Regions from separate parts of the Homo sapiens genome. Here region 1 is linked to region 2. The links come from fine-mapping of genetic effects on gene expression. A gene starts in region 2. The other region holds a variant in brackets. All regions are shown on one strand. Distances are between the middles of the regions. Region 1 overlaps NEURL1 (neuralized E3 ubiquitin protein ligase 1). Region 2 holds the start of NEURL1 (neuralized E3 ubiquitin protein ligase 1).

What was found.
Region 1: its variant is fine-mapped to the expression of NEURL1 in whole blood (TOPMed, PIP above 0.99).

What each region holds. Positions count from the first base shown.
Region 1 is chr10:103,552,351-103,568,308 of GRCh38, reverse strand. All of the region lies in intron 1 of NEURL1 (neuralized E3 ubiquitin protein ligase 1), which reads right to left. Among named protein-coding and RNA genes, the nearest start is that of NEURL1-AS1, 43 kb to the right of the region's middle. RefSeq lists an enhancer at 3,547-4,527. The variant GGAA/A (reference allele first, on the strand shown) is at 9,496.
Region 2 is chr10:103,486,624-103,502,581 of GRCh38, reverse strand. NEURL1 (neuralized E3 ubiquitin protein ligase 1) reads right to left here and starts at 8,877. Exons shown (of 6, transcript NM_004210.5): 1 at 8,110-8,877. The coding sequence starts at 8,194. NEURL1-AS1 (NEURL1 antisense RNA 1) reads left to right here. Exons shown (of 4, transcript NR_120675.1): 3 at 7,847-8,021. RefSeq lists silencers at 8,199-8,298, 8,379-8,508, 8,519-8,668, 11,898-11,967 and an enhancer at 7,983-8,532.

The sequences.
Region 1 (15,958 bases), 66 kb before region 2:
TGGAAGGACATTCCCCAAGGCCTCCCTTCCAGAGAGGACCCCTGCCAATCCCAGTGTTGGGTAGGGGGTTGAGGGTGGGGCTGGGGCAGCACAGGCCCAGCACCCTGGCTGGCAGCACAACAGACAAAGGAGGTGGGGCCAGGAGGACTCTGGTCCAGGGGCACCATGTGCACCCAGGCATGTGGGCTCCAAAAGACACACTCACGGGCATACACGTACACCTGTGAGCATGCGAAAGTAATCCCAACCCTAGGCCGTTCATCCTCTCCCGTATCCCTGAGACCAGGAACCACACACTTACACACACACGTAGTCATGTACACATGGATGTGAAAAACAATACATACAAAACACATGCCTATCACACATGGGTCATATGCATCAAATAATAGTGGCAGTCATTTGCCAAGCTCTGAACTAGTTTTACATACACTTACTGGTTTCACTCTTACGGCAAACTTATTATCAACCAATTTACAGGTGACAAATATGTGCCTCAGGGAGATTAAGTGGCTTGCCCAGGGTCACAGAACCAGTAAGAAAGGGACGTAAGAGCCACACCCAGCAATCTGACTGCAAGGCCTTTGTTATTGGCCATTAAGCATTAAGAGGCCAGGTGCAGTGGCTCACACCTGTAATCCCAGCACTTTGGGAGGCCAAGGCAGGAGGATCACTTGAGACCTAGGAGTTGGAGACCGGCTTGGGGAACAAAAGCAAGACCTCATCTCTACAAAAAATTTAAAAATTAGCTGAATGTGGTGGTGCTTGCCTGTACTGAGTCCCAGTAGTCCCAGCTACTCAGGAGGCTGAGGCAGGAGGATCCTTGAGCCCAGGGGCTGAAAGCTGCAGTGAGTCATGATCATGCCACTTCATTCCAACCTGGGTGAGAGTGAGACCTTGTCTCAAAAAAATTAAAAGGCATTAATAGCCAAGAATTCATGGATTTGGTGTGCTGGATAAATTTTTAAAATGCAAATTAAAAAATACTCATAACCTATAAACGAAGAAAAAAAAAGGTTCCTTCAGGCTGGGCACAGTGGCTCACACCTGTAATCTCAGCACTTTGGGAGGCTGAGGCAGGCGGATCACTTGAGGTCAGGAGTTCGAGACCAGCCTGGCCAACACGGTGAAACCCTGTCTCTACTAAAAATACAAAAATTACCCGGGCAGGGTGGCACATACCTGTAATCCCAGCCACTTGGGAGGCTGAGGCACAAGGATTGCTTAAACCCAGGAGGCGGAGGGTTGCAGTGAGCCGAGACAGCACCACTGCACTCCAGCCTGGGCAACAGAGCAAGACTCTGTCTCAAACAAAAAAAAAAAAAAGAAAGAAAGAAAAGAAACAAAGTTTCCTTTATGTACCACCCAAAACCATCTCATGTAGCACACAGGGCAATACATGGCATTCTATTATGTTGTCTCTATGATACATATATGTATATGTATGCCACCAAAACACAGAAATGTAAACCATGTCCTCAGCCCTCCTACATTCCTGTTGGGACACGACACAACCTGGAAAGCCAGTGTTGAGAATGGTTTGGCAGTTTCTCATGAAGTGAAAAATGCCTAACATATGTCCCAGCATCACACTTCCAGGCATTTCCCCACAAGAAATGAAAACATGTCCACACAATGACCTGTACACAAACGTACAGCAGCTTTATTCATAATAACCCTGAACTAGAAACAACTCAAACGTCCTTCAGCTGGTGAGCAGTTAAAAATGTGGCAGCTCCATGCAATCACTACTCTGCAATAAAAAGGAACATAACCACTGATATACACTAAAAAAATGGCTCTCAAAAGTATGCTATGTGAAAGAAGCCAGATGCAAAGGGCTGTATGCTGTACGATTCCATCCGTATGATATTTTGGAAAAGGCAAAACTAGAGAGAGACAGAGATCAGTAGGTATCAGAGAAGGAGAGTAGGGGAGAGATTTGACTACAAAGAGGCAGGAAGGAAGTTTTTATGGCGATAGAAATGTTCCATATCTTAGCCTGGACAACACCGTGAGACCTCATCTCGTTGTACAGATAAAAATAAAAAATTAGCCAGGCATGGTGTCTCGCACCTGTAATCCCAGCTACTTGGGAGGCTGAAGCGCAAGGATGGCTTGAGCCCAGGAATTTGAGATTGCAGTGAGCTATGATAGCACCACTGCACTTCAGCCTGGGTGACAGAGCATGATTCTGTCTCTAAAAAAAAAAGAAAAGAAAGAAATAATGTTCCATATCTTGAGACTGGGGTAGTGGTTACACAACTTGTACATTGTAAAAACTCACAAAACTGTACACTCGAAAAGGACGAGTTTTACTATATACATATTATACCTCAATTTAAAAGCTACAACTGGCTGGGTGCGGTGGCTCAGGTCTGTAATCCCAGCACTTTGGGAGGCCAAGGCAGGCTGATCACATGAGCCCAGGAGTTCGAGACCAGCCTGGGCAACATGGCAAAACCCCTTCTCTACAAAAAAACTACAAAACTTAGCCAGACATGGTGGTGTACACCTGCAGTCCCAGCTGCTCAGGTGACTAAGGCGGGAGGATCACTTGAGCCTGGAAAGTTGCAGGGAGCCGTGAGAGCACCATTGCACTCTATCCTGGGCAATAGAGCAAGACCCTGTCTCAAACAAAAAATTAAATTTAAAAGTAAAATCTATAATACAACTAACAAGTCACATCTTCATTCAGACGGAGAGAAGAGAGGCTGCACTTTCTCACCACCACGGCACCCCCATCAGCTCACCCTGGGCAGTGCCTAGGATGTGGCCATCTACCAGAAGAGCCCCAGTGCTTAGTTGGGCCTGTCACCCTAACCCTTAAGTTCCTTCCACAGCTGTGAAACAGAACGGGGGTTCCCTGCCCCAGGTATGGAGAGAGAGCACTTCATAGCTGCAAAGCCCCACCCACTGATTACCGTGCCTGTCTTCTGCCAGGCCCGGCCCGGCCTGAGCAGCTGTCCTCAGCCCCTTCTGTCTGTACTCAGCTCGCTGTGTGATCATCACCCACTGAGCCACCTCTGGGGAGACCACTTGAAAAGCCTCTCTGGTGTGCTGGGCATCTCCTGCCATGGACTGTGGGCTCCTGTCACGTGGCAGGCCCCAGCTGCCCTCCTGACCTGCCCCTCCCTGTTCCTGGCTCCAGGGGAGCCCCTGAGCACCCCTCACCCCATCTACCAATCCTGCCTCAGGAATAAGCACCCCTGGGTTCTGTCCTCTCCTGTCCACCCTGCGGCTACAGCCCTAACTCAGGCCTCGCCACTCTTCTAAACCAGGGCTGGGGCCGCGATGCGCTGTGCCCAGCACTCCTCTAGGGGGCGCTGTTCTCATGGACTATGAGTGTCCAATGTGCAGCCTTCATCAGGGTGACCCCCCTCCTACCCCACTGCAGTGTCCCTGCTCCTGCTACCCCCTCCTCCATCCTGGCATTAAAATCTTGGAGGCAGGGAGTGGGGTGGCAAGCAGAAAGCAAAATGAGAATGAACTTTGGACATAGCTCTGATGCCAAGGGTCCAGAGGGGACAGCTGGAGGTGGGGCTTCCCCCCTACACTATGTAACAGGGTCCCTCCCAGCACTGGGACTATGACCCTTTAAGGTCCCTATTCTACGAATGAAGGAGTTGGATTCGGAATGGTTAAGCAACTCACTTGTGGTCACACAGCAGTTATGTGGCAGAACTGGGACTTGAACCCTGGTCTTCCAAAGCCATGTCTGGGGACCTTTACCCTACTCAGCCTGTGGTACTAGAGCTCCTTTTCCCCACGAGTCCAAGACAGCAGGCAATTCGGGGAAGGCTGTGTGCAGGAGGGGCTGGGCAGCCCAGGCTAGGGGAGCAGCTGCAGCAAAGTGCCTCAAAATGGGGGGGGCGTGTGGGCTGCACAACTGCTCTACAGAGGCACACACAACTGGATGGAGCCCCAGTTGTGCCACGTGGCTCTCAGCAGAGCTCCCAGGGAGGGCCCTCAAGTGACAGGTTTACAGGCTTCTTGGGAGCCCCAGTGGGGGCACCCTCCTCAGGCGAGGCTGCTGCTGACATGGTGGAAACTCCCCCGACAGCCCCATTCCTCCTGGGCATTTATGAGCTGCCAGACACAAGCCTGGCCAGCTCTCCGGGTGACCCTCAGCTGGCAGACCACATTCCTGCCTCTCAGCGGGGTCCCAGGGCAGACGCCTTGACACACATACCCTCCGGAGTGACCTCCCCATGGCCCCCACCAAGCTCTGCCCCAGAACCACTGGCAGAGACCCAGATGCCCTAGGCTGGGCTCAGCTGGGCTGCCAAGGAGAGATGGGGGGGAGCTCACCACCCCAGCCAAGAGCAGAGGCACTGATACTGATGACAGTGCCCAGCCTCTCATGGCTTCAAGGGCAGTGTCTTGATTTATGCCCCCAATGCCACTCTGGCACAGATCCTCTGAAGTTAGGTTTACACATTGAGTGAGGAGCCCAGATCTGAACCCAGGGCTGGCTGCCTCCAAACCTAGCAGCTCTGTCACTAACTGTAAGACCTTGGGAGCCTCACTTTCCTCATCTGTAAAATGGGGTCATGGCAGGCCTTCATGGGATTCTTGTGAGGATTAAAATAGATGGTGTTTGTAAAACTCAGTAGGTAGTTGCTATTATTATTATTATTACTATTTATATCATTCTGCTTTCCTATCCCCACACCTTTGCTCAAGCCATTCCCTCTGCCTCATCTGCGCCTCTCCAAACCCCACCCATCTTTCAAGGCCCAGCTGAAGCCCACTGCATCCAAGATCATCTTGTTCTGAATCTGTGGTCCTGAATACCAGTGCTGGCATCATCATCTTCATCCAAGAGACAGTCTCGTCTCACTTTCTGGGCGGTGGGGCGAGGCACAGAGAATGAGTATTGGAGGCAAGAGGCCGTGGGTTCAAACCCTGACCAGGCCACAGACTTGCTGTGTGACTTTGGACAAGTTGCTTCACCTCTCTGGACCTTGATTTATTTCTCTGTAAAATGAAGCTCATCATAGCTGCCCTGCCCACCTCTCTAGGCTGTAGTGAGGCCCCGGTAAGTTTATAGATGTGAAAGAATTTTGCAAACTTTAACACTTGATCGCAACATAAGGTCTTTTTTAAAAATATAAAAGCAAACATAACTACTGCAGGAAATGATCGGCTCATTTCAGTCCAATGGGAGACTAGGAACTTCAGTCTTATTTTACCCCAAACGTCCTAATCTCAGATTGCCAGGGTGGTCCTGATATGGACTCGTTTAACTGCATTAACTGAACAGGGCTCCCTCTGGGGGAAAGGATTTAGGAGAATGGTTGGAAAGCTGGGGATGCCTGACTCCTGGTGGGAGAAGGACAGGTGGGGATGGAACTTGGGGGACAGAGATGATTGTAAAACTGGGCAGAATTAAACTTCTTTGGGTTCCCTAAAGGGGCCTCCACCTCCCACACCTGTCTTTGATTTCCAGGCTTGGCCCAGGCCCATTTCTGTGCTGGGAACATTTCCTTCCTCCTTCCCACCTATATATCTGCCTTTCTCATGCATCCTTCGGACGTAGATTTTTCCCAGAAGTCTCTCTGACCCCCAGACTAGGTTAGGGGCCTTACTATGGACCTTTGAGGACCCCATCAGCCCCCTAACAGAGGACGCATCACCAAGCAGCCTTTCCCAATCCTGGTTCTTACACAAGATTAAGCCCAGATACCCCGAGGCACTTGTTGTATGCAATGCATTGACTTGTCTCTTCTGCATCCAGAATGATTTTGGTTCTATGCCATCCTCAGGAGAGTTGAGAAGTCACTCCCATCAGCTTCTGTGTTCTGCAGAGTAGCACTGCACTGGGAAAGGCTGCAAGGTTATTTGTGCCTGTCTTTCCCCCTGATGGACTGTGAGCCTCCCTAGGGCAGAGACCACTTTCTTTTTTTGTTTGTTTGTTTGCTTTGAGACGGAGTCTGGCTCGGTCACCCAGGGTGGAGAGTCGTGGCGTGATCTTGGCTCACTGCAACCTCCGCCTCCCAGGTTCAAGTGATTCTCCTGCCTCGGCCTCCTGAGTAGCTGGGATTACAGGCGCGAGCCACCACGCCTGGCTAATTTTTGTATTTTTAGTAGAGACGGGGTTTTACTATGTTGGTCAGGCTGGTCTCGAACTCCTGACCTCATGATCTGCCCGCCTAGGCCTCCCAAAATGCTGGGATTACAGGCGTAAGCCATGGTGCCCAGAGCCATTGTCTTTTTTACTACTGTATCCCTATAGCCTAGTTCACAGCATATAGCAGGTCCTCAATAAAAGTTACTGAATGAATTGCTAGTGTTTGATTCTTCTATCTACTGATGAATTGGCAGGAGTTCAGGCAGCACCCACTTCGTGCCTTGCCCTTTCTGGTGTCCGGTGGAGAAATTAGAAAAAGAAAGGAATAAAGGGAGCAGCTCCCTTCCCTGCCTAGCATGCCTGACTACAGCCCTGCCTGCTCAAGAACCTTCAATAGCTCCTCACTTGCCAGCAGTAGAAAAGAAGCAGATAAGGAAGGCCATGAGGGTTGATTCTTTCTTGTGTATCAAATGCTGCAGCATTTGCCCTTCATACACAACCTGATCACACCCTCCAATCCCTGCAAGGCAGGTGTCTATGGGAACAGCCTCTAAAATGGCCCCAACAATCCCTGCATCCACCTCTTGGCATTCAGGCCCTTGTGTGACCCCTTCCCCTTAAGCGTGGGTTGGGCCTAACAAGTAGCTTCGAATGAATAGAATACAGAGGAAGTGGCTGGTGCAGTGGCTCATGCCTGTAATCCCAGCACTTTGGGAGGCCAAGGTGGGCAGATCACCTGAGGTCAGGAGATCGAGACCAGCCTGGCCAACATGATAAAACCCCGTCTCTACTAAAAATACAAAAAAATTAGCCAGGTATGGTGGCGGGCACCTGTAATCCCAGCTACTTGGGAGGCTGAGGCAGGAGAATTGCTTGAATCCAGGAGGTGGAGGTTGCAGTGAGCTGAGATCACACCACTGCACTCTAGCCTGGGTGAGAAGAGTGAGACTCTGTCTCGAAAAAAAAAAAAAAAGGAATACAGAGGAAGTAATGGAATGTCACACCCAAGACTGGGTTATAAAAAGACTGTGGCTCCCATCTTGGTTACTCTCTTGCCTCTCCTGAATTGCTCCCTCGGGGGGAAGCCAGCTGCCACGGTGTGGGGCCACCCCATGGAGAAGCCCGTGTGGCAAGGGACCAAGGACTGCCCATAGCCACGTGAGTAAGCTTGGCAAGCCTTGCGAAGCAGCCACAGCCAACAATGTGATTGCAACCTCATGACAGACATGAAGCCGGAGGCACCTAGCTAAACAGTGCAGAGATTCCTGAGCCACAGAAACTGGGAGATCATTAAATGTTTGTTGTTTTAAGCTGCTAAGTTTTGGAATAATTTGTTAAGCAGCAATAGATGACTAAAACAGTATCAATAGTCCCATTTCACAGATAAGGAAACAGAGGCTCTGAGAGGCAATAACTTGCCCAAGGTCACATAGCTGGTAAGTGGCAGAGCTGGGCTCTGAACTCAGATCTGTCGCACTGGTGCAGAGGTTCCTCCACGGGCTCCAGCTAGCTAACTGGCATGCTCAGTCCCCTCTCTCCTCCTAAGTTAGTTTCTCCATGAACACCACAGCCCCTGTGCATGCCCAGGGTGGGGGCCATGTTAGCACCCTGGCACCTCCCACAGAGTTCCTGGCATGCGAACGGCAGGTCCTGCTGCTCCCTGGAAGATGAATGAACTCATCATGACAGGGTGGGTGAAAGAAAGTGGCAGGCAACGGTTAAGACTGGCACCTTCATAGTCAAGTTAATCCCCAACTGAGCCTCCTGCTCTCACTCACTCTGCAACATCCCCATCCTGACATTTCTAGCAGCCAGAGGTTATACAGCTGTGCCTCCCAATTCCTCACTGCTCTGGGAGAAGGACCAGTCCTCCTCCTCTCCCTCTTGTGTCCCACCTCAAGATTCCAGGAGGGGACTCCAAATGTTAATTCTTCAGGGCTCAGCTCCCAATCCCTGCCCCAGTCCTTCCAGCCCCCCAGGCCAGGCCTGGAGAATGAGGGGAAGTGCAGCCCAGTAACATCAGCACCCCTAGCTCCCCATATCAAATCCACAGTCATGCATGTGTACATGCGTGCACACACACAGATGGCACGTGTGCCTCATGGCAGACACAACCAATGTGCAGGGCTGGGGGACAGAGGCAGCAGGTGAGTGTGTATGTGTGTGTGCATGCGTGTATGTGTGTGTGCGTGTGTTTATGTGTGCACTTGTGTGTATGTGTGCATGTGTGCGTGCATTGTGTATATGTGTGCATGTGCATATGTGTATATATGTGCGTGCATGTACGTGTGTGTGCATGTGTGTAATATGTGTGTGCATGTGTGTGTTGTGTGTGTGCATGCATGTGTGTATGTGTGTGCGTATGTGTACATGTACATGTGTGTGTGTGCGCACATATGTGTGTGCATGCACTGGCAAGCACACACAGACCTAGAGGAGCCTCCACAAAAACCTTCATAAAAGCACACTCTGTGGAGTGCTTACTATGTACCAGGTGTACTGCCCTTAGCGTCCACTGGCTCACTTAATCCTTCCTACAACTCTATAAGGTAAAACTTACCCTTCCCAATTTACAGAAGTGGACGCTGAGATGCAGACAGATGAAGGTACTGACCCAAAGTCACACAGCCAGCAAGAGCAGAACAGGATTCAAACTCTCACCGAGAACACCTGCTCCGCCTTCCCTTCCTTTCCAAATACTGCCTGGCCTCACTGCCCAGCCCTGGCCTCACCTCCCTGATGGCTACCCCACCCACCCCTCAGGCCACCTTCAGCTCCAACTGCCCTGCCGTCCAGCAGGCAAGGGCCTCTGTCCACCCCACACTCTTCCCCGCTACCCACTGACCCAGCATCTGCTGGGAGCCACTGTGTGCCAGGCGCCAGGCTGAGGTAAGGGAATGCAGAGCTAGAGTGACCGGATGCCCACCTTCCTGGAGCCCACAGGCACGAGCCAGGTGTGGGGATGTGCACCTTCAAGCTCCGGAGCTCCCCTTGGTCTAAGCCCCCAGAGCTGCTGCCGGGAGATAGGTAGCTCCCTCTGCTAATCTTGGGTTTCACAAGGCCACTGGATGCCTTCTCCGCTGCTGCCTGCTTGAGGATTAAGGAACCCAAGAACGGTAAGTGGGGGACCGGCTGCAGAAGGAACAAGTCCTGGCTTCCCCACTGAGGCGCCAGCTGTGTGGCCTCAGTTAGCCATTTCCCTTTCCTGGCCACAGCATCTCCCTCTGTGACAGGAGGGGGTGGGAGCCAATGTCTCGGGTCCCTGTACGCCAGCATCCTCTGACACTCAGGCTTGTTAAATCCAGAGACTAACCTGAGGGTGACATGAATGTCTGGGTGCAGGTGCGTGTGTCACCCACACATCAGCCGTCAGCAAGGGGTCCCTTCCTTGCCCTGAGGGAGCATTGAAGGGAGGTGAAGGA[GGAA/A]GTGGGGGGAAAGGAAGAAGAGAGGACGGCAGAGGCGAGAGGAGGGGGACCTCCCAGTGTCACTGCTGCCTCCCTCTTCGCACTACCCTTCCCGCCCCTGTCAGCCTGCTCTCAAGACCAGGAGCAGCTCTGGAAACCTACCGAATGGAAGAGATCAAGCGTGTAACCGCTTAAACCATTTTCCAAATGGGAATTCATTTCCCCATGGGTCTCCTGCCAGGCTGGTCCCAGAGGAGCCCGACTCCTCACCACCAGCCCCACTACACACACACACACACACACACACACACACACACACACACACACAGGCATGGCACAGGCACAGAGTACCACAGATGTGGCTGCCCCCGCATGGAAACACAGGCCCGGCAACACACAGTCGCTTCAATCCACAGTTAGAGACACATCACACAGGTACACAGAGATCTAAAACACAGATACACATCTGTTGACATCAGAAGCTCAGAGAGCCAAAACACGTCCACAAACAAAACACACAATTAGATGACCCCCGACACACATACAGAGTCCTGGGTCCTCCTGTCACCCTCCCCTCACTCACTTTAACGCAGCAATCCAAAATGTTTGGCCCGAATCAAGCCGAAAGTCCAAGGCCCTAAAGAAAATACAATCAGCCAAGCGCGGTGGCTCACACCTGTAAACCCAGCACTTTGGGAGGCCGACACAGGTGGATCACGAGGTCAGGAATTCAAGACCAGCCTGACCAACATGGTGAAACCCCGTCTCTACTAAAAATACAAAAAATTAGCCGGGCATGGTGGTGGGTGCCTGTGATCCCAGCTACTCGGGAGGCTGAGGCAGAGAATTGCTTGAACTCAGGAGGCAGAGTTTGCAGTGAGCTGAGATCATGCCACTGCACTCCAATCTGGGTGGCAGAGAGAGACTACGTCTCAAAAAAAAAGAAAAGAAAAGAAAAGATAATACAATCAAGGACCATTTCAATGTGTCTTCAGGAGCCCAGCTACAGGCTACGGCACCCCTAGGAAGGAGCAAACCCCTGCGTCTCCCGCTGGCCCCAGCTCATTTCCCAGAAGAAGGTGAAACCAGAGCCGCTGGGGCAGCTAGGGCGTGTGTACAGGTGTGGGCACACATGGGCGTGGATGCATGAGGACGCATATGCAAGGGTTCTGATGGGGGTGGAGGTTGGCTGTGTGGACACAGGCAAACACTCCCTCTCCAGACCTTCCAACTCCTGTCCCCTCTGCTTGTGCAATGGCAAAGGCCCAGGGCCAGCTTAAGGGAGGCCCCGCCTGGGAGGGCGGTCCTGGCAAAAGGGTGGAGGTCAAGGCAGATGTGGCATTTGATGAGCGCTCACTGATGGCCACCTAGCCTGGATGCCCAATTCCTAGAGTTCTTAGAGCACCGCAAGTGATCCTCCTGCCCCCAGGGAAATGGGACAAATGAGAGGGAGGGAATATGACCTTGGGCCCAGGTTGCCTTTCCAAGCCCTCTTGATTTTCCCCATGTTGAGTTCTCTGCTCACATGATTCATGTAATCCTCACAATAATCTTGTTTTCTTTTTTTCTTGAGACGAGGTCTCACTATATTATCCAGGCTGGTCTCGAACTCCTGGGCTCAAGCAATCCTCCCACCTCAGCCTCCAAGGTGTCTGGGATTGCAGGCGTGAACCATCGGGCCTGGCCTGCACAGCAATCTTAGAAGGAGGGTGCTATTACTAGCCTCATTGACAGGTGAGAAAACTGAGGCTCGGGAAGACATTTGCCTTCCTTACAAAACATATCTACCCACTCCCAGAGCATGAGCTAAGGTGGTCTCACCCTCTAGGGAGCCTGTGCTCCAGGCAGCTGGAGGACAGTGTACTATGTCCTGAGTCTGCTCTGAGAGCCTCTCTGTCCTTCCCAGACCACAGGCTTGCCCAAGTCTGACTCCAGTGGAAAATGCCAGTCGGCTCCAGACCCTCTGCCAACAGGCCCCGCCGGGGCCAGCAAGCCCTGAGAAGAGCCCCCACCCCACAGACGGGCAAGGCCAGGCTCAGGTCAGCCCAATCCAACTCTCCGGCCAAGGCCCAGGCCACTGGCAGTGCCCCTGGCCTGGCTCCGGATTATGTGTCTTCCAGGGCCTTCCATCTGTCACTTAGCCCTCCAAACCCAGGACGGAATTCATTTCCTTTTAAGAGAGCCAATGATTTGCTTTTCCTACATCTTTCCCTGTCTTTTTTCTTTTTTAATTAGAAATTACTCTCCCAAAGTCCAGAGCCTGGAAGGGAGAAGCCACCTGGTCACCAGTTCCGGCTGCGGCTGCCCATGCGCTCCTGCCACCACCCTCCTTCCTTCCTGAGCCTCTCCCAGGCTCCTCAGTGCCCACTGGACTCGGCAGATGGACACTGTCCCACCTCCTAATACCCCATCCAAGCAGGGAGCAGGGTACATAGGGGAGTGCGTCAGGGACTCCCCAAGGTCAGCCTATTCTGTTCTGGCTGGTTTGTAAAGGACCCCAGTTCCCAGGGCCCAGGGAAGACACACAAGTCCCTAGGAAGGCTTCTCCGGGTCTGCTGCCACATCGGCCATGGCGCTCCCAAGACCACAGTACTAGAGCTAGGGGAACAAGAGGACAGGGTTTGGAGCAAGCAGGAGCTCTGCAAATGGGGAGCCAGCCAGTGGCCCCCTCTCTTTAACCCCTCCAGCTCCAGGCTGTGGGTCTGTCTGACTGTGGACGTGACCTGCAGGGCTCAGAAGTTCTCTGGCCTCCCCCACAGAGCACACACTTGGAGAAGCGAGGTCAGGCGCTGTGGGGTGCTGTCACTTGCACACCCGTGTGCTTAGGCACAAGCCGGCACAGGTGCACACCCACGGGCACCTTCAGTGCCTACTCACGAGCACAGACACACATGCACACTCAGCACACATGTGGGTGCCCACATGTCTTTGCGGGGCTCCAGCATAGAACACAGCACCATCTCCAAGGCCCACATCCCAGAGCCGACAAGCAGGTCCCCTCAGCTGTCTAACTAACTGTGGCTGCCTCCGTCCCGGGAGAGGTGGGTAGGGAAACCCAGGACCTCGCATCCCACTTGGGGACTAGTCAGCACCTTGGTAAGAGGACAAGGAGGTAAGAGGACAAGGAGGTAAGAGGACAAGGAGACTTTGTGGGGAGCCTCAGCTGCCTGACCTCCCACCATCAGTGGGAGGGCGCCACTGTCAGGGAAGGCACCCCTCTTCCTGCTCTACCCAGCTCCCTTGCTGCCCCCACCCCAGTGCCCACCACCAAAAGGTGCCCCCACACAGCCCCAGACCCCTCCATGGAGTGAGAAGTAGGGGCATGACCAAGCCCTCAGCCCCAGCGCCCCTCCGCCCGGCCTCCCCAGGCGGTCTCGGGCTGGGGTGGGCGGGCCCGCAGGCATCCGCGGGGCCTTACCGTGGAGAGTGCTCCGGGTGATCTGTCCCCCCATCTCCGGCGACGGGCAGTGCAGCCACCTCTGCTGGGCCGGCCGGCTGGTCACCGAGTCGCCCCGGCCGGCTGCTCCCCTCCTCCTCCCCCGTCTCCTCCCCCGCGGGCGGAGACCGGCATGGCAGGGCCGAGGCCCCTCCCGCGCCCCCACGCGCCCCCACGCGCCCCCTCCGGCACACGCGCACGCCGCCCGCCCGCGGCCAGCCGGCCACACGCGCACGCAGCACGCACACCCCTCCGGCCGCCGCCTCCCCGCTCCCACCCACTCCAGCCTCCCCACCTCCCGCGCTGGTACAGCCGATGGGATCTGTCATGTTTATTTACATAAGGAGGAGGAGACTGGAGGCTTCCTGAAATAGCAGCGAGCTCCAGAAAGCGAGCAGAGGCGCGCACACGCACACACATCCCCATCACACACAGCCCCATCTCAGGGATGTAGTGACACACACAGCCCTCCCTGAACGCCCAGGCCGACAGCCATTCATTCACTAGCCTCATGCACCTACTACATGCAGAGGTCCTGCTAGGTGAGAGGGGACCCCCTGGGAAGCAAAACAGACATCGTCCCTGCCCTCAAGAGGTTCACAATCAAGCTGATGGAGCTGTTAACCAAGTGCTAACACCGTTTCTGTCTTCTTCCAGGCTCTGTTCCAAGGGCTTTGCAAGTATTAACTCCTTTGGTCCTCACAGGCTGAATGATGAGGTCAGTATTACAGTCATTATCAACAGATCAACAGGTACCATCTCTAAGATGATGATGATGGTCTTACAGATGAGAAAACTGAGACAAAGAGAGGCTGCTCACCTAAAAGGTGGCAAGGCTGGAATGCAAACCCAGGCAGTGCAGCACCAGAATCCAGGCTTTTCCCCCCCACACCAACCTATCCCTTTAACCATGCACATACACACACACCACACACCCCAACACAGACCTGCACTATTCTTCTGCATCATGTCACACAAATGTGCATATACATGGGCTCATAAGCACTTGGGAGCATTCACCACTGAGCGCACTCAGCCATCTACTGACCACCAGACATGTACTCACATGGTTACATGCACACCTCTCAATGTCCACAGTCAACATACGCCTGCTTCCACAGACTCGCAAAGTTTCTAGAGAAATCTTAAGGTGGACACTGGCACCCCACACTCAGGGAAGAGGGAAAGGTGGGAACAGAGGGGGAAGAGGGAGGCTGGGATGGCAGGCCCCTCCAGCCCTGGGCAGGCATGCCGGGAGCCCAGATCATCATCAAGAGAGCAGCTGCCATGCAATGAGCATGCACCGTGCACCAGGAACTGTGTGGGTGGCAGTGGCTATGATGATATCTGTTTTACAGAGAAGAAAGTGGAGGTTCTGAGAGGCTAAGGAGCTTGCGTGAGGTTACCCAGCAGGTCACAGGCAGGACCAGGACTCAGGCCATGTCTGAGGGACAATGTCACCATCCAACACAAGCTCAGGGGCCTCTACCAGGACAACAGGACAGCACCATCCTCCCTGGCCCTGGCCTGGACACCAGCCCCTGTCCTCAAGGTCTGGGATCTTGGACCCCAGGGAAAGGGCTGGGTGGGAAGAGAAAGCCAGCGGGCAGGTGGGAGGACAGAGGGGTAGGGGCTGAGGAAGGGGCCACGGGAAAGGTGGAGGCTGTCCCACAGCAGATGGAACTCAGAGGCCTGGGCCCTGTAAGGGACTGGACTGGGTCCTGAGCCCGCAGCTCAAGACCCTGCTGCTCCCACTTCTGAGTGGGTCTGGGGAAGCGGTTAGGAGGGACATTCAGGCCTGACCTAGAGTCATCAGCAGAGGGCTGGGCGGGATCTGGGGGAGAGCAAGCCCAGTCGGCCGATGCTCCCCTGAGCCAGAGGCATGCCCACGACTTCCGGGAGAAGCCACGACACCCGAGTCCGCACAAGGCAGCCCACTTTCCACAGGCACATACCGGCTCATAGCTGTGCAGTCACACGTACACACACGCACACACTTCCTGGCACACATACCCAGTTCCCATGGGGGCGGGAAGCTAAGTCAGTCTGACAAGGAGAAAGTAAGCCAAACTCCTTTTGTCGGATAATGATCATAATAACAGCAAACACGAGGTCTTACTGCATGATCCACACTGCCCTGAGCGTGTGACGCATTTAACTTGCTCAATCCTCACGACAACCCTAAGAGATCAGTGTATGTGTATGCCCATTTTACAGATGAGGAAATTGAGGCCAAAAGAAGATGCTTTGGAGGCTGTTCCTGTAGCAGCAGAGTCACCCTCCACACCCTGCCTGCCTTTTAACACACTCAGCTGGCCCCTTGCCCACCAATCCCTCGCACATGCCAGCCTGGCCTTCCTATGGCCCCACACCCAGACATCAGCCTCCCTCTCACCTTGGTTCCTGCCTTCTCCTCACTTGGAATGCCCCCTTCCCATCACCCAGCACTGGGAACACTTCTTCTGGGAAGCCTCCCTAGGGCCCTAGGTAAGAGTAAGTCCCTGTTCTTGGCACTTATATTTCCTCTGAGCTCCTGAGCTGGGCATCTCCTAACACTTACCCTACTCGGTCCTATACAGAGAGAGCCATGGCCTGGCTGGGGCCCTATCTGCTTGCCCCAGCTTCTCCTGGGTGCACCTCAACCATTTAATTCAACTCTACCCACATTTATTGATCCCCTACTATGTGTCAGACACTAAGGATGCAAGGGTGGCCCTCAGTGGCAGGTCCTAGCTCTCGCGGACTTCCAGTCCAGAAGGAAACAGACATTTATCCAGTAGTCTCACTAAGGAGTATATCATCACAACCTGAGAAAAAGGGTCTGAAAGAAAGGAGCAAGGTTCTGGGAGGCTCAGGACAGGCTTTCCTGAAAAGCAACAGTGAAGGCAAGATCTGAAGGCTAATGGCCCTGTGCTGTGGAGGTGGCTTAGGGGAGAGAGTGAGTACAACATAGGCAAAGGCCCTGTGGCTGGAGAGAGCTGGTGTGTTCCAGAAGCAAGGTTGGTATGGAGCAGGGTGAGCAGGAGGAGCCTCAGGAAACGCTCC
Region 2 (15,958 bases):
TTGGAGATAGGGTCTTTAGGAGGTAATTAAGTTAAATGAGGTCAGAGGGGTGAGGTCCTGATCTGATAGGATTAGCGGCTTTATAATAAGAGGAAGAGAGAAAGATCGTTCTCGCTCCATATGCACACACCAAGGACAGGCCATGTGAGGCCACAGCAAGAAGGAGCCACCTGAAAGCCAGGAAGAGGGCCCTCAATGGAACCTGACAGTGCTGGCACCTTGATCTCAGACTTCCAGCCTCCAGGACTCTGAGAAAATGCATTTCCATTGTTTAAGCCATCCAGTCTGTAGTATTTTGTTATGGCAGAACAAGCCGACTAAGACACCATCCCAGAGGGCCCAGGAAAAGAGTCCTAATATGGAGAAATTCCCCCCAAGATCAGTTTCCTCGCTGATCAGCTTTGGTGTCCTGAGTAGAGATCCCAGCCCTGCTCTTTCCTAGCTCAGTGTTTCTGGGCAGCACTCTTCACATCCATTAATCTCAGCTGTCTCGTGTATAAAATGGGAATAATAAGAGCCTGGCACAGTGGTGTGCGCCTGCAGTCCCAGTTACTCAGGAGGCTGAAGCAGGAGGATCGCTTGAGCCCGGGAGTTTGAATCTAGCCTGGGTAACATACAGAGACTCTGTCTCTACAATAAATAAATAATGGCCGGGTGTGGTGGCTCACGCCTATAATCCCAGCACTTTGGGAGGCCGAGACGGGCAGACCTCCTGAGGTCAGGTGTTCGAGACCAGCCTGGCCAACATGGCAAAACTCTGTCTCTACTAACAATACAAAAATTAGCTGGACTTTGGTGGCAGGCGCCTGTAGTCCCAGCTACTCAGGAGGCTGGGGCAGGAGAATCACTTGAACCCGGGAGGCAGAGGTTGCAGTGAGCTGAGATCACGCCATTGCACTCCAGCCTGGGTGACAAGAGGGAAACTCCGTCTCAAAATAATAATAATAATAATAATAATAATAAATAAAGTGGGAATAATACCTACCTCTCCTTTATGGGGAGATTAAATGAATTTATTTACATGAATACACCTAGCATCAGAACTTGGGCTTCTTAAAAATCCTTTCATTGCTGGTTTTTGTTGTTTTTTTTTCCTGCCTATGAGCAGTGGTCCTGCTGCCCATAGCTGTGGGTTGGAAATGCTTTCAGACTTGCCCATGGGAACTCCAGATGAGCAGGTCAGCTTGGCTGTCACGCCCAGCCCTTTCAGCGTGGCCTAGGACAGAAGGCTGACAGCCTCTGTGAACCTCTCAGCAGCTCAAGATGCCTCATCTCCTCCTCTCCCCAGCCTGCCTTCCACCACTGTTGGTGCTGTTGAAATAAAATCACTACATGCATCTTGCTCAAAAGCTGTCCATGGCTCCCAATGCCTACAGGATAAAATCTAACCTCCTCGTCCTAATATCATAGGCCCTCCAAGATATGACCCTAGCCTACCTTCAAAGATTGACCTGTTAACCTCCCCACTGGGGACCCCACATCCAGGCAAGAGGACTGCTCACCATCCCTGAACACATCCTGTGTTTCTCTGCCTCTGTGCCTTTGCTGCCAGCCCACTCACCAAGACACCTTTCTAGCTCCCCTCCAAATCTCCCCCATCCAACTCTGGGCTCTCCTCCTCTGAGGAGCCTGGTCCCACCTCCTCCAAGCATGCAAGAGTAGGACTGTTCTGAGGCCCCAGAGTCACAACAGTTCTCAGATCTTGAGGACCCTGTTAAACACGCAGGTTTGAGGGTCCCATCCCCAATATATTCTGAGTCAGCGGGTCTGAGCTGGGGGCTGGGAACCTGCATGGTATACATGCTTCCAGCTAATGCTGATGCAGGCAGTAGAAAAACCTCACTCTGAGAAACACTGGCCCCAAAGAACCACAAGTTTCCTCCAAAGTGTCTAAAACCCCGAAGAAAGCGTAAGGGGGAGGAGGCTGGGAATTCCAGACTAGCACAGCCCTCCTGATCTTCTGGTTAGCCAAGGGAGAAAGCATCAAGAACCCCATTGTGTGCCCTTTCCCGGCCCTGGGGCTCTGTCCAGAGACGCAAAAATTACTCCCCCATCTCTCTCCCACAATGAAAGACAGAGCCCACCCAAGGCTAAATGCTACAGGGGCAGGATAATACAGCGATCACAATAATAAACTCTAAAGTCTGAGAGCCCTGGCTTTGAATCCCAGCCCCATCAGTTTCTAACTGTGTGGACTGGGATAAGTTACTTAACCTCTCTTAGCCCCTTTTCCCCCATCTGTAAAACAGTGACAATGCTACCTCCTTCTGTAGGTTGTTGGGAGGGTATTAATGGAAATAATCCACATATAAGAACTTGGTACAAAGTAACCACCCAGTGCATGGTAGCTATTGTAAATATTATTATGATAATTAACATAACAGGGTTCAAAGGTAAAACCGAACTGAAAACCAACAGGGCATGCAGGATGGGTGCTCTGGGTTCAACACGGGGCTGACGCAGCCAGTCACTCTGAGGAGGCCACCAGGCACCCCCTAGATCCGTCTGCTGCATTCCCGGGGGTGGAGAGCTGGATGAGCTCACCTAATCTGCAAGCGTCATGACAACCAAGGAAGGAGCCCAGACAAGAGCTGAGGGAAGATCTGTGGGTTGACCAAAGAATGGAGACCTTGAATATCCCATTATGGTGACTGAAGCGGGGAAGGGTATGATGAAGATAGTACTTTGGGAGAATCACTCCGGCAGCATCGAAGGAGGGACCGGAGGCAGAGAAGCCAATTAGGATGGCAGCTGTGGCAATATCTGGGATGAGGACTCAGATAGGGGAAGTAGCAGCGAGAATGTGAATGCAGAAAAATGGCTAGAGGCTGAGCACAGTGGCCCCAGCATTTTGGGAGGCCAAGGCAGGAGGTCTGCTTGAGTCCAGGAGTTCCAGACCATCCTGGGCAACATGGCAAGATGCCATCTCTTAAAAAAAAACCTACAGAAATAAGCCAGGAGTGGTGGCGTGGGCCTGTGGTCCCAGCTACTTGGGAGGCTGAGGCAGGAGGATCACTTGAGCCCAGGAGGTTGAGGCTTCAATGAGCCAAGATCCACCACTGCACTCCAGCTGAAAGAAAAGAAAAGAAAAGAAAAGAAGGAAGGGAAGGAGGAAGGAAGGGAAGGAAAGAAGGAAGGAAGGAAGGAGGGAAGAAGAGAAGGAAGGAAGGAAGGGAGGGAAGGAGGGAGGGAGGGAGAGAAAGAAAAATAGCTAAGACCTTGTCCAAGGATGAGCCTTCCCCTGCCCCTGCTCTCATCCCCAGAGAGTAGTGAGGAAATTCAGGGTCTACAGACACTCTGGCCCACCACAAGAATCAAGACCCTTAGTCAACCTTTGCAGCTTCTCCTTCAGCCCCCCAGCAGCCTCAGCCATCATAGAAAAGAGACTGAAAACAACAGGTGTCTCGCTGGCGTCACACCCAGCCAGAGCTGGAGGGGGACGGCCTTCCTACAACTGTCACAACCAGTGACTTTGTGAAGTATCCAATTCAAGAAGCACCACCTTTTGAAAGATGGGAGGTGTACTCTTAGGTGTATACCCAGAAGAACCGAAAACAGGTGTTCAAACAAAGACTTAGACACAGATGTTCATAGCAGCATTATTCATGAAAACCAAAAGGTAGAAACATCCTAAAGTCCACCAACTGATGAATGGATAAGTGAAATGTGGCATACTCTTACAATAGAATATTATTCAACCACAAAAGGAAAAAAGGTGCACGCTACAACATGGATGAAACTTGAAAAGATTATGCTAAGTAAAAGACGCTTGACACAAAAGGACAAATATTGTATCCTTCCATGTATATTAAACGCCTGGAATAGGCGAGTCCATACAGACAAAGAGTAGATTCGTGGTTTCCAGGGATTCAGGGGAGAGGGTAACAGGAGTGACTGCTTAATGGGCATGGCATTTCCTTTTGGGATGATAAAAATATTCTGGAATTAGGTAGAGGCGGTGGTTGTACAATATTGTAAATGTACTAAATGCCACTGAATTATACATTTTAAAATGGTAAATTTCAGGTTATATAAATTTTACAATAAAAAACAATGGGCCTGGCGCGGTGGCTCACACCTGTAATCCCAGCACTTTGGGAGGCCGAGGCGGGCGGATCACAAGGTCAGGAGATCGAGACCATCCTGGCTAACACGGTGAAACTCCATCTCTACTAAAAATACAAAAAATTAGCCGGGCGCGGTGGCGGGCGCCTGTAGTCCCAGCTACTCGGGAGGCTGAGGCGGGAGAAGGCGTGAACCCGGGAGGCGGAGCTTGCAGTGAGCCGAGATCGCGCCACTGCACTCCAGCCTGGGCGACAGAGCGAGACTCCGTCTCAAAAATAAAAAATAAAAGGAGGTAGCCCATCCAGTCAGGCACTCAGAAAGACCTGGGCAAGGAGGAAAATCTTTATTCTTTGTATTTTTCTCCAAGAGGCATGAACCTCCTGTGCACCCTACCCCAGTCACTCTGTGCCCCTCACTGAAAATATATACATAACTTCCATATACATATACTTTCTATTTCATGTAATATATAGATATACGCTCAAGCCCCTCCAAGCCTTTACTGTCAGTGCCTTTCCCCCTTCTTCCACACCCTAGGACTCTGCTGCATCCCTTGCTTTCTGTCCAGTTCCTGCAGTTCCCTCCATGTCCAGCTCAGATCCTCCCCTGATACCCCTTGTCTGACCTCTGCCCACATATCTGGGTTTCGACAGTACAACCAAGCAAACACTTGATTCCATTCACTCCCTCATCCATGCCTTTTGAGTAGATCTCCAGCCTGGGAAAGCCCAGGGGTGTCTTATCTCTGAGCTGGGCACATGGGAGCTCCTCGGGCACTGCCTGTTGGTTCTAAGCCCAGAGCTACACCGTGGACCTCTCCCCTGAACACTCCTAGACCAACGCTGTTCAGAACCCAGTGGGAATCACCAGCAGCAGAGTGGGGTCAGTGTGTTCCCAGGAAGAAGACCAAAGTCTATCACCCGAGAGGCGATGGTGGGGTCCCATGTCCCATGTCATGTCAGCCTAACAGCCAGACCAATCTTAGATCTCCAATCAGTCCCAGGATCCCCATTATACCAGGTCCCTTCCAGTTGTTTTAATTAAAATGGTGAGGAATCAAGAGACTGAAATTATGTAAGGAGAGAAAAAAATCAAGACAGTCACTCCACCCCTACTCCCAGCAAATTTCTGGATGAGCACTGACAAGAATTAGAGATGAATTCAAGCTGAGTACAGACGCCATCCCAGCAGAACTCTGGCTAGGCAGTTAGCATCACAGCCTATCAGGTCAACACCAACACAATTAGAATGAACTTCTGGCTGACCACTGATATACCAGAGAAGACTCGTAGGTCAATGCTGATACATTTAGAAGAGAATTGGGAATAAACACTAAACAATTACAGAATAAAGGTGATGGCTCTATTAGGGTAGAAAGACGGGAAGAAGTCCTTAGAAGTCAAGCTGAGAAGGAGGATCAGTGGACCTTGGGTGAAGGACAGAGCCAACAACTGGCGGCCTTCATGGGTACCTTCTGTCCTTCATTTCAGGCTTAGTAGGGGCGGGATCAAAATTCCCATGGTCACCTACAGTGGTGTGTGGATGGGGCCCCCACTCCTGCCTTCTGCCAAAGACCCTAGCCACAGAGACCTCAGATCCCCACAATTCCAAATTTTAGATTAAAAAGATGCAATTAGTTGGGAGCTCTCTGGGTTTCCACAGAGTCAAGGATGGAGCAAGACCTTCTCAGGAAGATAGTCTGTGAATATTAAGGGCCAACTAACCCCTGCCCCCAGCTAACCCTTGCCCCCTGAAGGACAGGGCCAAGTTTTGCCACTTTAATTTGGGCAAATAATTATTCTTTTCCCTCATTATTCTCACTTGCAGAGAAGGTTGAGCTGAACGATATTCATAGGTTCATTAGGAATCTGTTTCCAATGCTCAGAAACAGTCTTCATACTTGCTAACACTGATAGCTTATTTCTGATTACAAAAATAATACTTCCTTATTATAGAAATTTTAGAAAAGAGCAAAATATAAAAAAGAAAAAATGCAATCCCATATGATCCTATACCCAGAGGAAATAATTGTTAACCCTTTGGAAACTTTACAAGCATTTTTGCTTGTTTTGTTTTTGTTGGGGTTTTTTGCATTCACACCACTTTTTAAACAAAATTGGGATCATACAGTCTTCACAACTTTGTATTCTGTCGTTATACTGTGAGCATTTTCCACAGTCATCAACTATTCTTCACAAATATAATTGTAATCACTGCATAGTACTCTACCAAGAATATATACCATGATTACTGAGCATTTAGGTTATCCACCTAGTATAAATAACACTGCCATGAACATCCTAGCCTAGTGCCATAAGTATATATTCCTGCATCTCCACTTCCTTAGTATCAATTCCTCAAGGTAGAATTACAAGGTCAACAAACTGATTTTTTTTTTTTTTTTAGCAAGACAGAGTCTCGCTCTGTCGCTCAGGCTGGAGTGCAGTGGAACGATCTCAGCTCACTGCAACTTCCATCTGCCAGATTCAAGGGATTCTCCTGCCTATCTGCCTCCCAAGTAGCTGGGATCATAGGCACGCACCACTATGCCCGGCTAATTTTTGTATTTTTAGTAGAGACAGTGTTTCGCCATGTTGGCCAGGCTGGTCTGGAACTCCTGACCTCAAGTGATCCACCTGCCTCAGCCTCCCAAAGTGCTCGGATTACAGGCGTGAGCCACCGCACCCTGCCAACAAATTGATATTTTTAAAGTATCTTGACATGTATTGCCATATTAATTTCCAGAAAGACACAACAAATCCACTGATTTTCCTGAGCCAAGTGAAAGCTGAAGTTCTGAAAGAGCTGGAGTATTAGAATGCAGGACAGTGGTCCTATCTCTCCTCCTCTTCCCTGGTCTTAAAAGTTAACTGTTCAGCAAAAGAAGGGACAGAATTCCAAGTCAAAAGATAGGGGTCTACAGCCTAGCACCTAGCGCCGAGGTCTGGCTGGCTTTGGGAACCTGAAGCAAGCCTTGGTTCTCCTCATCTGTAAAATGGGTATAGTGTGATTAGCTCTGCTCTGCTGACTACCCCAAGCAGTGTCCATGCTCACTGAAAATGTGTTTGAGAAAGTTCGATGCCTTGTGTTAAAGGGCACTATTGTTATCCTTCTCATAACCTGAGGAGCTTAGGAAGTGGGGTATTCTTTCTGAAAGCCCAAGGGCTTCCCTTCCTGGCTTTTAGCCATCATGCCCAGGACAAGTGCCACTGGTTCTGAGGTGACAGAAAAGCACCTTCCGGAAGGAATTTAGTAGGGTCTGAGGGCCCGGGAGGACCCAGCAGTGTCTTCCAAAGGTCAGAGACAGCATTGGAAGATCCAAGACAGGAATGGCAGGCTCCGAATGGGGAGACTGGGCCTAGGGCCACCCTGAGGGTGCTGAGTGGATCTGGGGAGGTGAAGAGCAAAGACATTCCTAGTAAATGTCCCTCTGTTTCAAGGCTCCCAGACCCTCTTTTCTAGGGCTCTGACTGGATATCTGGTCTTTGGGAAAACCAGAAATCAAACTAATTCAATGGATGCAAAAACCCAACGGCTGCAAAGGACCCCAGGAACCAGCAGCTCTGACCCTTTCTTCCAGGCTGCTGTAATCCTGTCCTGAATTTTTAAAACCCTCCCATTGGAAATGCAACTAGTGCTCCCAGCCTGGTCTCTCCAGCCCTAGGGCCGATGGAAAGGAGACCCATCGAGGTGCCTCCCTGGAGACACGGACGACCCAAGCTTCCCTCCTCACTCCCCACTCCCCTATCGACCTGGCAAACATCCTTTCCCATCTCTTCAGGCTCGCCTAAGACCATGGCCTGAGGGGACTCCAGTGACGTTCCCAGTGCCAGCAGACAGAACTGCGCAGACCCCGCGGGACGCCATCCTCCATCACCATCATCGCCGGCTGCCCTCCACCCCCAGCCCACTCCACGGCCAGAGGTGCATCTCCGGCCTCCAGACACGCACAACAGGTGGCGTCTGCCCGCCCTCCCCAACCACACCTCCCTGGCCCTCCACCTGCGCCCCAGTCCTCCAGCAGCGCTCGGCCGGGGAGCCTACCTTTGAGGTTCTGGGGGTGGCCCCGCGGCGCGCGGCTCGGGTTTCCTCGGGGCAGCGAGGGGATACTGGAGAAGTTGTTACCCATGGCATCCGGCCCCAGGAGGTTCGGCGCTCGCGGGTGGGGGCGAGGCCGGGCAGGCGCTGAGGTGCGGTGTGCGAGTGTGCGCGCGCGGGTGCGCGCCACCGGGGGAGGGCCCTGCTGGGGCTGCAGCCGGGGGCGGGCGGGCAGCTCCTCAGCTTCCTTTCTCTGGACTTCGCGGTCCTTGGCGGGTTCCGCCCGCCACGGGTGTCCTGGCGCAGGCTGGGCTACCTGCCTCCCATGCCCCGTGGCGGGAGCGGGGGCCACAAGCAGGGCCCTGGGCCGGGGCCGGGGACGCCCGGGGCTCCCCGCTTGCTCCCCGGGACGCTAGGGTTCCGGCTGGGGGTGGGCGGCGCGGCGGCTCCGGCGCGCTCCCCCGGGGCCATAGAGTCAGGGTCGCTGGCGTGGGCGTTCGGCGGCTCCGAGGCAGGCTCGGTTACCGCCCCGCGGAGACGGCCGCGGCGGCGATGTGCGTGGCTCCCTCCCGCCCGCGGGTCTGCGTGGAGCGGGGCTCGGCGGAGCGCGGGGCGTTCTGGGCGCTCCGACGCAGCTGGTGTCCCCCGACCGCCGCGGTCCCGCCCGCGCCGGGTCCCTCCTGCGACCGCCGCCCCCGCCCCCCGCCCCGGCAGTCTCCAGGATTCCCTCGCTCCGGTTGTTATGGTGACAGCTGCGCCGGTGAATGAGCGTCTTAGTGACACGCGCGCGCCCGCTAGGCCAGATGTGGCCCCGGGGCGCGCCGCGTTCCCGTAGCCGCAAGCTCTCGGCGGCGCGGGTCGGGGTAAGACATCAGGCGAGTATGGTGGCACCCGGGGCTGGCCTTATTCCCAGCACGGAAACATGGAACTTGCACTTGAAAACAAGGGGAGCAGGGCCGCGAGAACGCCGAGCTCCCCGGATGCGGGGGCGGGCGAGCCAGCACTAATGTTCGGTTTCCCTAGCTCCAGGTACCGGGCCTGGCGCAGAGTGGAGAGCCCAGGGAAACATGTAAATGAGCGAGCGGATGCTTGGATAAAGTAATTGAGATTAGAACCCCGGCACTTGACCCTCCGTTCTCAGCCAGGCTAGGGGCACTAGGGCAAGGGTTCAGAGCAGGAACCCCGGGCAGTCTCACTGATGCACAGATGCCACTGAGGGCCTTTGAATGCCCGCGGACCAGACTCACAAGCCTGGAGCTCTGGCCAAGCTGAGGGAACAGATCTCCGGGACAGATCATCAGAAGACCACCAGCTCTGAACTGAGTGGTTCTGTTAGCTATAACAAGGTGGGGGAGAGGAGCCTCTGCAGCCTATGGCAGTCAAAGAAGGCTTCCTGGAGGAAGGGGGTTTCAGCAAGGGCCCTGCTCATGTGGCTAGTGCCTTCCTGTAGCTCAACACTGCACCAAGAAGCCTTCAGGAAGGGAAACAGAAGTCATTCTTCTCCTTCCTGGACCCGGGGCATCTCTCCTGGTCTATCAGGGATGGAAGATGTTCCAAGGTTCCCCCCAGGGAATCAGACTTCCTGCTCCTCTAAGTCATCTCTAGCTCCCTGCTCTGGCTTCAGCAACTCAGATCCAGAGTCCAGTGAAGACATGGGTGGGCAGGGGGACATCTCATGTATCCTTTTCTGTAATAAAGGTTCTTCCCCCAAGTCTCCATTTGGCAGCTCCTCATTATCTAGGCACAATTCGTGTCCTGACATTCCCTGACTGCCCCAACTAAAGGACCCCCTCCACTGTCAGTCACTTTCCACAATATTCCATTTTATTTTCATCATAGCTTTTATATGGAACTTGTTTACAAGTAGCCTTTCCTCGTTTATCTTCTGCCTCCCTGCTAGAACATAAGCTCTGTGAGGGGAGAGCACAGGTCAGTCGTGTTCACCAGGGTGTCCTTACCCACTGGGGGAATGCCTGGCATGTGACAGATTCTCAGAAAATAATTGTGGAATGCATGCTTCCCACTGTGGGCCAGGAGGCTCCACTGAGATCCCTGGGGGCAGAGCCTCCTGAACCACCCTTTATTTTCCTCTCCTACTCTCCTCTCTCCATCCCCATTCCAGGCATTCTACCCTTAAATGTCTGGGACTCCAGGCAAGCTAGAAATATCTGTGACAGCCACTGTCTCTCTGGAATCTGGAGGGAAAGGCAGCCCCGAACCCGGCCTCCAGCCTCCCAGATGCCCAGGATCACGTGTGCAGGCAGCTGCAGATGGCCACAGCAGGTCAGGGATGGCTGTCTTATTTATGGGCAGTATCTTCCCAAGGCTCACTCCCAGCTAATGACTCATGCATCAGAAATCCACAGGCTCTTAATGGCAACACACTCACACATGTGCTAACACACCGCTACACTATCTCACACACTCACACCTATACAAGCACACACACTTATATTCCCCCTGAAATCTGCCGGAATGAAGTCACTGTGAGTGGCCACTAGAATCAGGCCTTTCACAAGTTAGAACAAATATGAGGACTCTGCATAGTTGAGACTCATCCTGCTAGAGTGTGTTTGAAGTACAAGGGCCTAGCTAGGATTTACAGACGGTGGCTCCAGGGAAGCCTGGTGTGGGCAGGGGAATGGGGGAGGGGATGAGGCCCCAAAGGTAGAGCACAGCAGGGATGTCTTGAACTGCTGACCTCAGGTGATCCACCTGCCTCGGACTCCCAAAGTACTGGGATTACAGGCATGAGCCACCGCGCCTGACAAAGGGATGTCACAGGCCCCACATGGCCTAGACCTGGGGCTATGGGCAAAGCAGGGGAGAGAGGAAGACGTCAAAGGGAAGGAGGGAAGTGAAGGCCAGAGGCGGATGCTCACCTGAGTCCAGAGGCAGCCCAGGTTCTGCAGTTCAGGGCAGCGTGATCCCAGGGAGTCCCAAAGGAAGGTGAGAGGCGTCAGGGACAAAGGCAGGGAACTGAGGGTTGAGGAGCTGATGGGAGTATCAATAGGGCTGGGATAGGATGAGGTAGCCAAGGCATCCCTGGCGCAAAATTGAAGAAGGCGCCAACTCTCAAGTTCATGCAGATACCAAGCTTGCACTTGCGCGAGCCTGGGAATTAGGTCCTCTTATATTTCACGCCCTAGGCCCCTCTCTACCTTCACCCTAGTACTTCAGGGAGCTCTGTACTGGAAGAGGGGACACCACTGTTAGAGTCAACTAGGTCTCTGGCCAGGAAGGGACCTAGAGGAGGTTGGTGTGGCTGCATAGGACTCAGAGAAGTTGAGCGTGGCCCTTCTGAGGAGTCCTGTGCCCCAGCAACTCCTCCCTGGCAGGGACTTAGGGTAGACCCAGCTCAGAGGGTTAAAGAAGGCCAGCAGTCTCCTTACCCCCAGACCTTGGGCAGAACTCAGAGGCCTTCCTGCCATCCTTCCCCAAGGCAGCTCATAGGGGTGGGGTGCCTGGGTGGTGGCTCTGATCCAGAAGACCCTTCCCAGACCCATCCTGGAAGGGAAGAGGAAGAAGGAAACTGCCAGGGAGACTGGGGCTGATGAAGTCACTGTTTTGATGGCTTCAGGGGAAGCTATTAATACCCACAAGGTGATGCTCCAGCACCAGTCACCGTGGCAACACCCACACACCCAGCAGTGCAGATTCTGCGGGCAGTGCCTGAGGGGGTGGGTGTCAGTGCACACGTGTGCACTTTCGCGAACACCTGTGTCCTTGTATGTGCATGCGTAGGTGTTGTGAGTGCACACACAGGCATGCAGGAGAGGGAGGCCCCAGGCAGGGACCTGAGGAAGCTTCCTTCAACAGCAGCTCCACTCCCACCTTCCCTTCCTTCCCTGTTGCTCTCTTCTTGCTGATTTCTCTTTTTTTTTTTTTTATACAGAGTCTTGCCCAGTGGGAGCACAGTGGCACGATCTCAGCTCACTGCAATCTTGCAACCTCCACCTTCCAGGTTCAAGCAATTCTCCAACCTCAGCTTCCCGAGTAGCTGGGACTACAGGCACACACCATCATGTCCAGCTAATTTTTTTTCCTTCTTTTTTTTTTTTTTTTTTTGAGACGGAGTCTCGCTGTGTCACCCAGGCTGGAGTGCAGTGGCGCGATCTCAGCTCACTGCAAACTCCGCCCCCTGGGTTCACGCCATTCTCCTGCCTCAGCCTCCTGAGTAGCTGGGAATACAGGTGCCTGCCACTACGCCCGGCTAATTTTTTGCATATTTGGTGGAGATGGGGTTTCACCGTGTTAGCCAGGATGGTCTCAATCTCCTTACCTCGTGATCCACCCGCCTCGGCCTCCCAAAGTGCTGGGATTACAGGCATGAGCCACCGTGCCCAGCCAATTTTTGTATTTTTAATTGAGATGGGGTTTCACCGTGTTGGCCAGGTTGGTCCCTAACTCCTGACCTCAAGTGATCCGCCCGCCTCAGCCTCCCAAAGTGCTGGGATTACAGGAGTGAGCCACCGCACCTGGCCCTTGCTGGTTTCTTTCACTCTCTACCCCCTTCCCACCCCCTCTCGTCTTTCCCCCTGCCCTTCCTTCTCTGCTTCTTCCCACCCTGGTCACTTTCTCTCCTTGCAACCTCTGTTCTTCCCACCCTGGCTGTCCGCTCCTGCCTGGTTCGCCTCTCTCTACCTCCCTTCCTCTTTCTCTCTCTCCATAGCTTCCAGATCCATTCAAGTCTTGAAGAGTTACCGCGTTGATAAAATAATAGCATATTTAACTGAGAGTCTACTCCCTTCCCTGAGCCTCTGGATACTGAGTTCAGAACCAACCAGAGTGATGACCTTTCCTCAGGCAGACAAAAGTGGGGCGCCTCTAGGCCAAGCTGGACTCCCCTGAATTGAGACCACCCTAGTCAATGGCATGACACCTCCCTCCAGGCAGAGAAATTAACCTTAAAATGGGAAACAGCCACAACTATCCCTGGCTACCACAGGTAGCACCCTCCCATTCCCCAAGTCCCAGCCCATTGTTTCATTTTGTTTGGGTTTTGTTTATTTGTTTGTTTGTTTGAGACAGAGTCTAACTCTATCACCCAGGCTGGAGTGCAGTGGCATGATCTCAGCTCACTGCAACCTCTCCTCCTGGGTTCAAGCAATTCTCGTGCCTCAGCCTCCTGAGTAGCTGGGATTGCAGGTGCGTGCCATCACGGTCAGCTAATTTTTGTATTTTTAGAAGAGACAGGATTTTGCCATGTTGGCCAGGCTGGTCTTGAACTCCTGACCTCAATTGATCTGCCCACCTTGGCCTCCCAAAGTGCTGGGATTACAGGCGTGAGCCACTGCACTCCGCCTGGTTTTGGTATTTAGAGCTGAGGGTCTCACTCTGTCACCAGGCTGGAATGCAGAGGCGTGATCATAGCTCACTGCAACCTCGACCTCCTGGGCTCAAACGATGCTCCCACCTCAATCTCGAGTAGCTGGGACTACAGGCATGCGCCACCACACCTGACTAATTTTTTATTTATTTGTGTTTTGTAAGAGATGAGAGCTCAGTTTGTTGCTCAGGCTGGTCTTGAACTCCTGGCTTCAGGTCCCGACTAGGCCACCCAAAGCTCTGGGATTATAGGCATGTGCCACCATGTCCACCCAGCCACCAGCCCATAGTTAATCAGACTATCAGAAAAGCTGTCGGGGGAGAGGGTGGTGTCCTGTCTGAACTTCAGGGGGTGGCTGGACAAGTTGGAGGGGTAGATCTCTGAGTGCCTGTGCCTGATGCCTAGTGCATACTCAATAACTAGTTATTAAATAAATGAATGAATAAAGAAATGGATGGATTAAGCTGTCGGGCCCTCCCTCTGAAGGATGGAAGTCTGTGCTGCCCATTTTAGGATGGAATGGGCCCTATGCCATCTTATTCCCAGGTATTTTTGGGATTCAGCTTCACTCATTGCCCAGTGACCATTTATTGAGCACTACCTGTATCCCTGGCGCTGATGAGATGCAGTTTCCTTGCTAGCACCATGGGGCAGCCTGTCCTCTGCTTTTTGTGCACTCCAGTCCCAGTTCCCCACCTCCCAGGCCCAGGTTCAGAGCTGAACATACAGCAGGTCTGACCGCATAGCTGGGCTGGGCACGTTGCTCTGAGCTCCAAACTTTTTTGATCACGCACCCCTAGCAGTAATAAATTTTTAAAGTGTGTACACCAATATATGTATATTTCTTTATTTATAATTTCTAAAAATGCACTACTGTATTCATATTATGTATATTATGAAACATAGACTAATGATATTGAAAAAGGGATCATCTTGCCCTCCTCCTGGGGTGCACACACACTCTAGACTAATAATTCTCAAACTTAAACGTGCATCAGAATCATCTATGAGGCCTTGGGGAGAGGGGGAGAAAGTTACTAAAATGCAGACTCCCAGACCTCACCCCTTGAGACTTAGATTGAGCAGAGTATGATACAGGTCATTTATTGATTACACATTGGGAAACTGCTCCACATGGTCACATGTTCTAGTTGTGAAGACGGTGTTTAAAGAAGGCCTACAGGCTTTCTCGGGGGAAAGCTGGACACCCCATGGGGACCAGGCCAGTGCTGGCTGCCACACAAGCAGGGCTAACTTATTGGAAGAGGTGACTGTGCAAGGAGGTAGCAGGGGTGAATCCCAGCCCCTTCCTCTGCCCCACAGACAAACTTGCCCTCTGGGAGGTGGCCCCTGAATCCAGGATCAGTTGTGAGGTCTTCATAGACCCCCAAACTCTTATTTTGGAGCCCAACCCTGTCAGGCCAAATGTACTAAAATATACCGCATTCCACATTAAACATCATTTTCTTGCAGTAAACATTTTGAAAGGATTTTTACAAATTTGGCTTTTGGAATCACTGGATGACAAGGGACTCACTGAATTTACAACTGGTTTTATTTCTAAGCAATCATGCGTGTGCTGGATGCCTTGCCAAGTGAGAAAAAAACTATGTTTGTCTTCAAATATAATGAAATGTTTATGAGTACTACATTTAGCAATCAATGACATTGATACAACAAAGGCATTTAAGTGAACATTTATTAATTTTGGTTTGAAGTTTTCCTTTCATAACTTGAGGACAGTAATGTTTTTTTCTGGTCTCAAGCAGATGCTTTAAAAGTTCATAGGCTTAAGTACCCATAGCACCCATGGAAAAAATCCAGACCTGAGGCCAAGCACTCCCAAGACTGTATCTGAAAGGACGGAAGGAGGTTCCTCCATGAAGCAGAAAGGAAAATGCCCAGTGTTGGCCGGTCACAGTGACTCACGCCTGTAATTCCAGCACTTTGGGAGGCCGAGGTGGGCCGATCACCTGAGGTCAGGAGTTTGAGACCAGCCTGGCCAACATGGCGAAACCCCATCTCTACTAAAAATATGAAAAATTAGCCAGGCATGGTGGCTCATGCCTGTAGTCCCAGCTACTTGGGAGGCTGAGGCAAGAGAATCACTTGAACCCTGGAGGTGGAGGTTGCAGTGAGCTGAGACCCCACCACTGCACTCCAGACTGGGCAACACAGCAAGACCCCATCTCAAAAAAAAAAAGGAAAAAAAAGAAAATGCCCAATGTCGGAAAGAGGACAGTGTGTCTCCATCTGAGACAGTTGTGTACTGACTTCAAAGTCCAGCATCAGTTGATCTATCCCAGGGCCACTTGCTCAGATAACTGTGACAGGTGACATTTATGAAGCACTTACTCATGTGTCCCAGGCCTTGGTCTAAGCACTTCAGATGCATTAGTTCATTTAAGTCTGGAAACAACCCTGTGAGATAGGTACTATTTTTGTTCTTGTTATTATTACTATTATTATTCCTATTTTACAAATAAAAATCCCGAGGCTTCAGGAGGCTAAGTCACTTGCCTAGGA